Regions from separate parts of the Homo sapiens genome. Here regions 2 and 3 are each linked to region 1. The links come from fine-mapping of genetic effects on gene expression. A gene starts in region 1. Each other region holds a variant in brackets. All regions are shown on one strand. Distances are from middle to middle. Region 1 holds the start of INSR (insulin receptor). Region 2 overlaps INSR (insulin receptor). Region 3 overlaps INSR (insulin receptor).

Region 1 (2,757 bases):
GAAACAGAACCCAAAAGGGTAAACATGGACCTAGAGTCCGGGGTGGCCACGGGCCTAGATCCAAGGTAGTTGGGTAGAGGGGGGCTCTGCAGTCCCTGACCCCAGGCAGCGTCACCCACCGGTGAGGCACTCAGGGCGCTTGGCTCTACCTACACCATATGCGCTCGGGGGACTTGGCTGTTCGGGGCTGTCCAGACCCAGTGACCCCACTTCCCGGCCGCGACCCAAAGATGACGCGTGTCGTGTCTCCGGAGCGACTTGGGCTCGGAGGGGCCGGGGCACGGGTCGGAGGCGCGCTCCAGAGAGGAGCCCGCGGCGGGGCGGGCACCGGGGCAAGGTTCCTCGGGCTCAGGTCGGGCACGCAGGGCGCGGAGGCGCGAGCCCGGGCGGGCAAAGGCCAAGGTCAGAGGCTTCCCGCTCCCCCTACGCGATGCAGGAGCTACCGTCCTGGCCACCGCCCCCCGCCCCTGGGGAGGGTTCTCAGTCCACAAGCGGGGGCTCGATTTTGGCTTGGGTGGGGTCCTCTCCCCATCGCGGCGCTCCCCGCCCACGCCCGCGCCCCCAGACTCACCCTCTCCGGGGTACAGGTGGCCCGCGGCGCCCAGTAGCAGCGCGGCCACCGCCACCAGCAGCGGCGCGGCCGCCGCCCCCCGCCGGCCCCCGGTGGCCATGGCTGCGGGAGCGCGGGGTCTCCTCGGATCAGAGCGCGCGGCGCTGGCCCGCGGGGGTCATGCTCCGAGGCGGCCACCCAAGAGGCGCTGGGGGCCGCGCGTCCTTCTCTTCCACGCCCGCGACCCGCGGGCCGCAGCCCCCCTGCCGGGGAGGGCCCAGAGGCAGCCCCGGGAAGGGCGCGCGCGGCTTCGCCAGCTACAAATACTGAGCGGAGGCCCTTGCGGTGGTGGCCCCGACCCCCCGGCCGCTGCGGCCCGGGCCCCGTCCCAGGATCTCGGGGCCCGGAGCTCCGCGCTGCGCCCGGGACTGTCTCTCGGCTCTCGGCCCCGCGCGCTCTGGGTCGCGATCTGCGGGCTCCGGGACAGAGGGACGCGCGGACCGACGGACTAGCTGACTGGCGGGCGGGCACCTGGGCTGGCGGGTGGCGGGCGGGCGGCGGGAGAGAGGGCTGCTCGGGCCCGTAAACAACGCGGCCCGTCAGCTGGGCCCCGTGCGGGCCGCGGGAAAAGGCGGCGCGGATCTGGCCTAGGAAGGGACTCTGCGCCCGGGAGAGGCCCAGGAGAGGGAGGGAAAGCTTGCAGGGGAGGGAGGTGCCGCCCGGCCCCGCCCCGCCCCGCCCGCCTCCCCGCCTCCCTGTGCCGGGCCCCGCGCGGGAGGCCCTGGGCGCGCCGGGACCGAGGGCGCGCCCCAGATCCGCGCGCCCTACAGCCCCGAGTCTCCTCCAGTTTCAGACCCCCGGAGGCGCCCCACAGGCCCGACGCAGCGGCACAGATCCTTTCTCTACCATTTTGCTATTTTGTTCATAGTGGGCTTTGGAGGATTCCTGTTGATTTTTTAAAAAATACTGCATTAAAATGTTTATTTTGGTGACTCGAGGTGGTTTTGGTTTCTTTCTTTTTTTTTTTTTTTCACTCCCTTAAATTTTGCACCCCAGGCGAGTAGTGTCTCACTCGCCTTTCCTCAGTCCGGGCCTGGCCAGCGACACTCGTCCCAGAGCGCGTGGGCGCCCCCAGATGTCCCGCCCGCGAGTGCGCCCCGGCCCAGGGGCGAGACCCAAGCCAGGCCCCTGGGGACAGCCACGTGCCCGCGTGCCCAGTGCGCTCCCTGTGTTCAAGTTGGAGAAATGACACCTGGAAAAATGTGCAGACGCTTCTGAAAGGGCAAAGACGACGCCAAAGAAGACGCCGGAGACCTCGAATAGGGCGCAGGTGGACATCTCTGATTTTCAGCAGACCAGCCTGTATGTGTCTGAAGTCTAGCAACGACATTCACCAACAAGGCGGGACAGCGGTTCCACCTACCTTACTGCAGGAGAGGAAGGGGCTTTCAGTATAGGAAAGCCAGAACTCAATGGGAGGAGGGTTCCTCCACCCCTCACTCCTGTGTGGTCTTGGACCAGGGACTTTTCTGTCTCTGGGCCAGTTTCACTTGTGTAATGGGTTTAATAATACCTGCATGCCAGTTCTGGGGAGGTACCCGGGAAAGAAAACTTAAGAAAGCGCCCAGCACAACCCTAGACCCAAGGCATTCATTCTTCTTTCATTCAATAAACAGTTTGCTAGGAGCTGGACCCACTGTTCATGCAACAGGCCAAACCTATTCCTGCCTCTGGGCCTTTGCCCCAGCATTTCCCTTGCCCGTAACACTCCAGGATGGCTTCATCTCTGAAGTGCCATCCCTAACCATATTTTTGCAAATCCTCCCCCCAGTTCCGTTTCCTTCTCTCTCTCTCTCTCTCTGTTTTTTTTTTTTTTTTTTTTTTTTTTTTTTTTTTTTTTTTTTTAGATGGAGTTTTTCTCTGTTGCCCAGGCTGGAGTGCAATGGCCAGATCTCAGTTCACTGCAACATCACCTGCCTGGGTTCAAGTGATTCTCCTGCCTCAACCTCCCAAGTAACTTGGATTACAGGCATGCGCCAGCACACCCAGCTAATTTTCTGTATTTTTAGTAGAGACAGGATTTCACCATGTTGGCCTGGCCGGTCTCAAACTCCTGACCTCAGGTGATCCACCGGCCTTGGCCTCCCAAAGTGCTGGGATTACAGGCCTGAGCCACTGCGCCTGGCCCCTTCTCTCTCATTTTCATA
Region 2 (2,757 bases), 170 kb before region 1:
TCTTCAGGTCTCCGTGAGCCATCAGCTCCATCACCACCAGCGTGGGCTGGCCCTTGGACACCACTCCCAGGAGGCGCACCTGCAGAGCAAGCAACCAGGGTTCTTGGAGGAGGGTCCGTGATTCGACTCACCAGGGTTCTCCTCCCTCCCTGGTGTCTATGTCACACACAGCACCCTGTGGCCTGGATGCAGCGTGCTCAGCCCTGGTCTAGGAGAGCAGACATACCTGCCCGGACAGCAGACAGATAGGCCTTTGTATTTTTTTTTTTTTAATTTTCGAGACGGAATCTTGCTGTTACCCAGGCTAGAGTGCAGTGGCGTGATCTCGGCTCACTGCAACCTTTGCCTCCCGGGTTCAAGCAATTCTCCTGCCTCAGTCTCCCGAGTAGCTGGGGTTACAGGTGCCCGCCTCCACACCCGGCTAATTTTTGTATTTTTAGTAGAGACAGGATTTCTCCATGTTGGTCAGGCTGGTCTTGAACTCCTGACCTCTGGTGATCCGCCTGCCTCAGCCTCCCAAAGTGCTGGGATTATAGCCACTGCACCCAGCCAGGCCTTTGTATTTTAATCATTCCCTCTGCCTGGCTCTCTGTTCCCTGCCACATCCACAGGGCCCAGCTCCTCATGTCCTCTAAGTCTTTGCTCAAATACACCCCTGTCCAACCCTCCTTTCCTCCCTTTCTTCATGTTTCCATAGCATTTGCTCCTAATGTATAAAGGGTTTGGAGTCAGCTGGGGGTGGTGGCTTATGCCTGTAATCCCAGCACTTTGGGAGGCTGAGGCCGGTGGATCACCTGAATTCAGGAGTTCGAGACCAGCCTGGCCAACATGGCGAAACCCCATCTCTACTAAAAATACAAAAATTAGCTGGGTGTGGTGGTGGGCTCCTGTTATCCCAGCTACTCAGGAGGCCGCGGCAGGAGAATTGCTTGAACCTGGGAGGCAGAGGTTGCAGTGAGCCGAGATTGTGCCACTGCACTCCACTCTGGGCGACAGAGAGAGACTCTGTCTTAAAAATATATAAAAATAGGCTGGGCGTGGTGGCTCACGCCTGTAATCCCAGCACTTTGGGAGGCCAAGGCAGGCGGATCATGAGGTCAGGAGATCGAGACCATCCTGGCTAACACAGTGAAACCCCGTCTCTACTGAAAATACAAAAAAATTAGCCAGGCA[C/G]TGGGCGTGGTGGCTCACGCCTGTAATCCCAGCACTTTGGGAGGCCAAGGCGGGTGGATCACGAGGTCAGGAGTTCAAGACCAGCCTGGCCAGCATGGTGAAACCCCGTCTCTAATAAAAAAAAGTATAAAAAGCATTAGCTGGGCGTGGTGGCAGGCACCTGCAGTCCCAGCTACTCGGGAGGCTGAGGCAGGATAATTGCTTGAATCCAGCAGGCAGAGGTTGCAGTGAGCTGAGATCATGCCACTGCACTCCAGCCTGGGTGACAGAGTGAGACTCCATCTCAAAAAAAAAAAAAAAAAACAATCAGCCAGGCGTGGTAGCAGGCGCCTGTAGTCCCAGCTACTCGGGAGGCTGAGGCAGGAGAATAGTGTGAATCCAGGAGGTGGAGCTTGCAGTGAGCTGAGATTGTGCCACTGCACTCCAGCCTGCACAACAAAGCGAGACTCCGTTTCAGGAAAAAAAAAAAAAAAAAAAAAAAAAAAAAAAAAAAAAAAAAAAAAAAATATATATATATATATATATATATATATATATATATATATATATATATATGAAATAAAATAAAAATAAAGGTTTTGGAGTCTGTCTCCGCCTGCTGTTTTGGAAGCTCTACAGGGGCAGGTATCCACTGTATCACAGGGACAAGAGCAGGGCTTTAAATGCCCCATAAATATGTGTGGCAAGGATGAAAGCACATAGGACTCAAAGAGGAACAAAGGAGCAGAAAGGCAGGAAGAGTTGGTGCTGCCTTCAAAGGAGAGTAGGAACGAGGGCAGGTGGTATCAGGTGGACCTCTATGTGGTCCTGGGTTACAAAGGTGCCAGGAAAAAGCAAGAAATGGAAGAGTCTAAAAAGCAATGGAAGATTGTGGAAAATGATGGAAGATTCCGGAAAGTGGTGGAAGATTCCAGAAAATGATGGAAGATTCCAGAAAGTGATGAAAGATTCTGGAAAGCAATGAAACATTCCAGAAAGTGATGAGACAGTGATAGAGTCTGGTTCCAGGCGAAGTGGGAGAGGATGGGATTTGAGAAGGGAATGATCCCTCCTCACACCTCTAGGATGGGAAGCTTAGTGGAGTGAGGGGTGGGTAGGAGGTTACACCCTGTGTCCTCTGTCGCTCTGTGCAGGAGGAGGAGGCAGAGAAAGGGAAGGGTCAGGAAAGCCAGCCCATGTCCCACCCCCACTGGACTCACCACGTGATGGCAGGTGAAGCCCTTCATGACCGAGGCCTCATTGAGGAACTCAATCCGCTCTCGGAGACTGGCTGACTCGTTGACCGTCTTCACCGCCACGCGGGTCTCTGCCTCACCCTTGATGATGTCCCTGGCATTGCCCTCATACACCATGCCGAAGGAGCCCTGCCCCAGCTCTCGAAGGAGGGTGATCTTCTCTCGAGACACCTCCCACTCGTCCGGCACGTACACAGAGCATGGAAACACTACTTCTTACTTATCTACACAGCATCCTTGGAGGATCCCTTGGGGGTCTGCAGCCACCTTCCACCCAAGCCCTCACCCAAACCCCCTCGAAAACACTCATGAAATGAGTTCTGTGATCCAGGACCCATGCCGGGCACTG
Region 3 (2,757 bases), 22 kb before region 1:
ATAGCTGAGGCTGAGTGCAGTGGCTCACGCCTGTAATCCCAGCACTTTGGGAGGTAGAGACGGAAGGATTGCTTAAACCCAAGAGTTCAAGACCAACCTGGGCAACATAGCGAGTCTCCATCTCTATAAAAATTTAAAACATTAGCTAGGAATGCTGGTGTGTGTCTCTGGTCCCAGCTACACGGGAGACTGAGGCAGGAGGATCGCTTGAGCCTAGGAGGTCAGGACTGCAGTGATCTGTGTTTGTACCCCTGCACTCCAGCCTGGGCAACAGAGCAATATCTTGTCTCAAAAGTAAATACAGGCTGGCCGCAGTGGCTCACGCCTGTAATCCCAGCACTGCGGGAGGCCGAGGTGGGCGGATCACGAGGTCAGGAGATTGAGACCATCCTGGCCAACATGGTGAAACCCCATCTCTACTAAACATACAAAAAAAATTAGCTGGGCATGGTGGCGAGTGCCTGTAGTCCCAGCTACTTGGGAAGCTAAGGCAGAAGAGTCACTTGAACCAGAGAGTTGGAGGTTTCAGTGAGCCAAGATTGCACCACTGCACTCCAGCCTGATGAAAGAGTGAGACTCCGTCTCTAAATAAATAAATAAATAAATGTAAATAAAAGGCCAGCCACAGTGGCTCACTCCTTTAATCCCAGCGCTTTGGGAGGCTGAGGCAGGTGGATCACCTGAGGTCGGGAGTTGGAGACCAGCTTGGCCAACGTGGTGAAAACCTGTCTCTACTAAAAATACAAAAATTAGCTGGGCGGGGTGGCGCATGCCTGTAATCCCAGCTGCTACGGAGGCTGAGGCAGGAGAATGGCTTGAACCTAGGAGGCGGACGTTGCAGTGAGCTGAGATCGTGCCTTTGCACTCCAGCCTGGGTGACAGAGCAAAACTCCATCTCAAAAAACAAAAAACAAAACCAAAAAAACCCCACGAAACAAAAACAAAAACAAACAAACAAACAAAAACAAAACAAAATTATGCCTCCAGTATAGCTGGAACCACAGACATGCACCACCATGCCCAGCTAATTTAAATTTGTTTTGTAGAGATAGTGGTCTCTCTATGTTGCCCAGGATGCTCTCAAACTCCTGAACTCAAGCAATCCTCCAGTCTTGGCCTCCCAAAGTGCTGGGATTACAGGTATGAACCTTCTCCATAAAAGAAGTCAAACAGAGAAGGCCACATGTTGTCTGACTCCATTCATACAAAAAAATCCGAAAGAGGCAAATCCATAGAGACAGAAAATAGATTCGTGGCTGCCAAGAGCTAGGGAAATGGGGGATGGAAAGTAGTAGCTAGAGGGTACAGGGTTTCTTTGAAGATGATGCAAATATTCTAAAACTGACTGTGGTCACAGTTGCACAACTGTAAATGTCCTCAAAACCACCTAACTGCACACTTAAAATGGGTGAATTGTATGTCA[T/C]GTGAATTCTGTCTCACTAAAGTTGTTATGAGTAAAGATTAAACAGCTATAATTGTAGGGAACAATCAAGAATTGCTTTTCTTTTTAAATATCCTATGAATCTAACTCTTAATTCATTAAAGCCGTATGTGTCCCTATTAGTGAAAGACAATAGAGCAGTTTACCACTGGGACAGAAAATACCCAGAGGATGTTAGAAATGAAGGCAGAAATAGACACGAGGACTTCTGCTGGCTTTTAACATCTCTGAGTGGGCGTGAAGGATGCTTCAAGTTCTTCATAATGGGTACCTGGTTAATGGCCACTCTTTGTACAGGTAGAAAAAGGCAATGAGGAAGAGGGTGCTAAGTGACAGCTAATATTTTCTTTTTTCTTTTTTTTTTTTTCTTTAATTGAGACTTGAGTCTTACTCTGTTGCCCAGGCTGGAGTGCAGTGGCATGATCTTGGCTTGCTGCAAACTCCACTTCTGGGGTTCAAGCAATTCTCCTGCCTCAGCCTCCCGAGTAGCTGGGATTACAGGCGTGTGCCACCACACCTGGCTAATTTTGTATTTTTAGTAGAGATGGGATTTCATCATGTTGGCCAGGCTGGTCTCGAACTCTGACCTCAGGTGATCCGCCCACCTCGGCCTCCCAAAGTGCTGGGATTACAGGCGTGAGCCACCGTGCCTGACCACCATCTCCGTACTAAAATATGCCGAATGGGCCAGGTACCATGGCTCACACCTGTAATCCCAGCTACTCAGGAGGCTGAGGCAGGAGAATCGCTTGAACCCAGGAGATGGAAGTTGCAGTGAACTGAGATCATCCCGTCGCACTCCAGCCTAAGTAACAAAGCAAGACTCCATCTCAAAATAAATAAATAAATAAATAATTCCCACATATAATCAATCCTAAAAAAAAAATGATTAATGAGATAGTCCACAGCAGTGGTCCCCAACCTTTTTGGCACCAGGGACCAATGGTAGAAGACAATTTTTCCACGAACACGGGATGGGTGGTGATGGTTTTAGAATGAAACTGTTCCACCTCAGATCCTCAGGCATCAGTTAGATTCTCATAAGGAGCAGGCAACCTAGATCCCTTGTATGCACAGTTCACGACAGGATTCGAGCTCCTATCAGAATCTAATGCTGCCATTGTTCTGACACGAGGCGGAGCTCAGGCGGCAATGCTCACCTGCCCTCTGCTCACCTCTACTGTGCAGCCCAGCTCCTAACAGGACATGGACTGCTACTGGTCTGTGGCCTAAGGGTTGGGGATCCCTGGTCTGCAGGATTTTTTTCCCATGACGCCTACGAGATGTGGTGTGTGCTTTACCCTGGCAGCCCATCT

The links. PIP is the estimated chance that this variant, and not a neighbour inherited with it, causes the effect.
Region 2: its variant is the best candidate, but not a certain one, in a credible set for the expression of INSR in fibroblasts (GTEx, PIP 0.51).
Region 3: its variant is the best candidate, but not a certain one, in a credible set for the expression of INSR in whole blood (INTERVAL, PIP 0.72).

The regions. Positions count from the first base shown.
Region 1 is chr19:7,293,221-7,295,977 of GRCh38, forward strand. It overlaps INSR (insulin receptor), which reads right to left and starts at 1,194. Exons shown (of 22, transcript NM_000208.4): 1 at 572-1,194. The coding sequence starts at 671. RefSeq lists an enhancer at 1-394 and silencers at 376-435, 486-625, 766-1,045, 1,066-1,455, 1,596-1,775.
Region 2 is chr19:7,122,911-7,125,667 of GRCh38, forward strand. INSR (insulin receptor) reads right to left here. Exons shown (of 22, transcript NM_000208.4): 17 at 2,373-2,617; 18 at 1-79. Among named protein-coding and RNA genes, the nearest start is that of ZNF557, 55 kb to the left of the region's middle. The variant C/G (reference allele first, on the strand shown) is at 1,174.
Region 3 is chr19:7,271,720-7,274,476 of GRCh38, forward strand. All of the region lies in intron 1 of INSR (insulin receptor), which reads right to left. Among named protein-coding and RNA genes, the nearest start is that of INSR, 21 kb to the right of the region's middle. The variant T/C (reference allele first, on the strand shown) is at 1,424.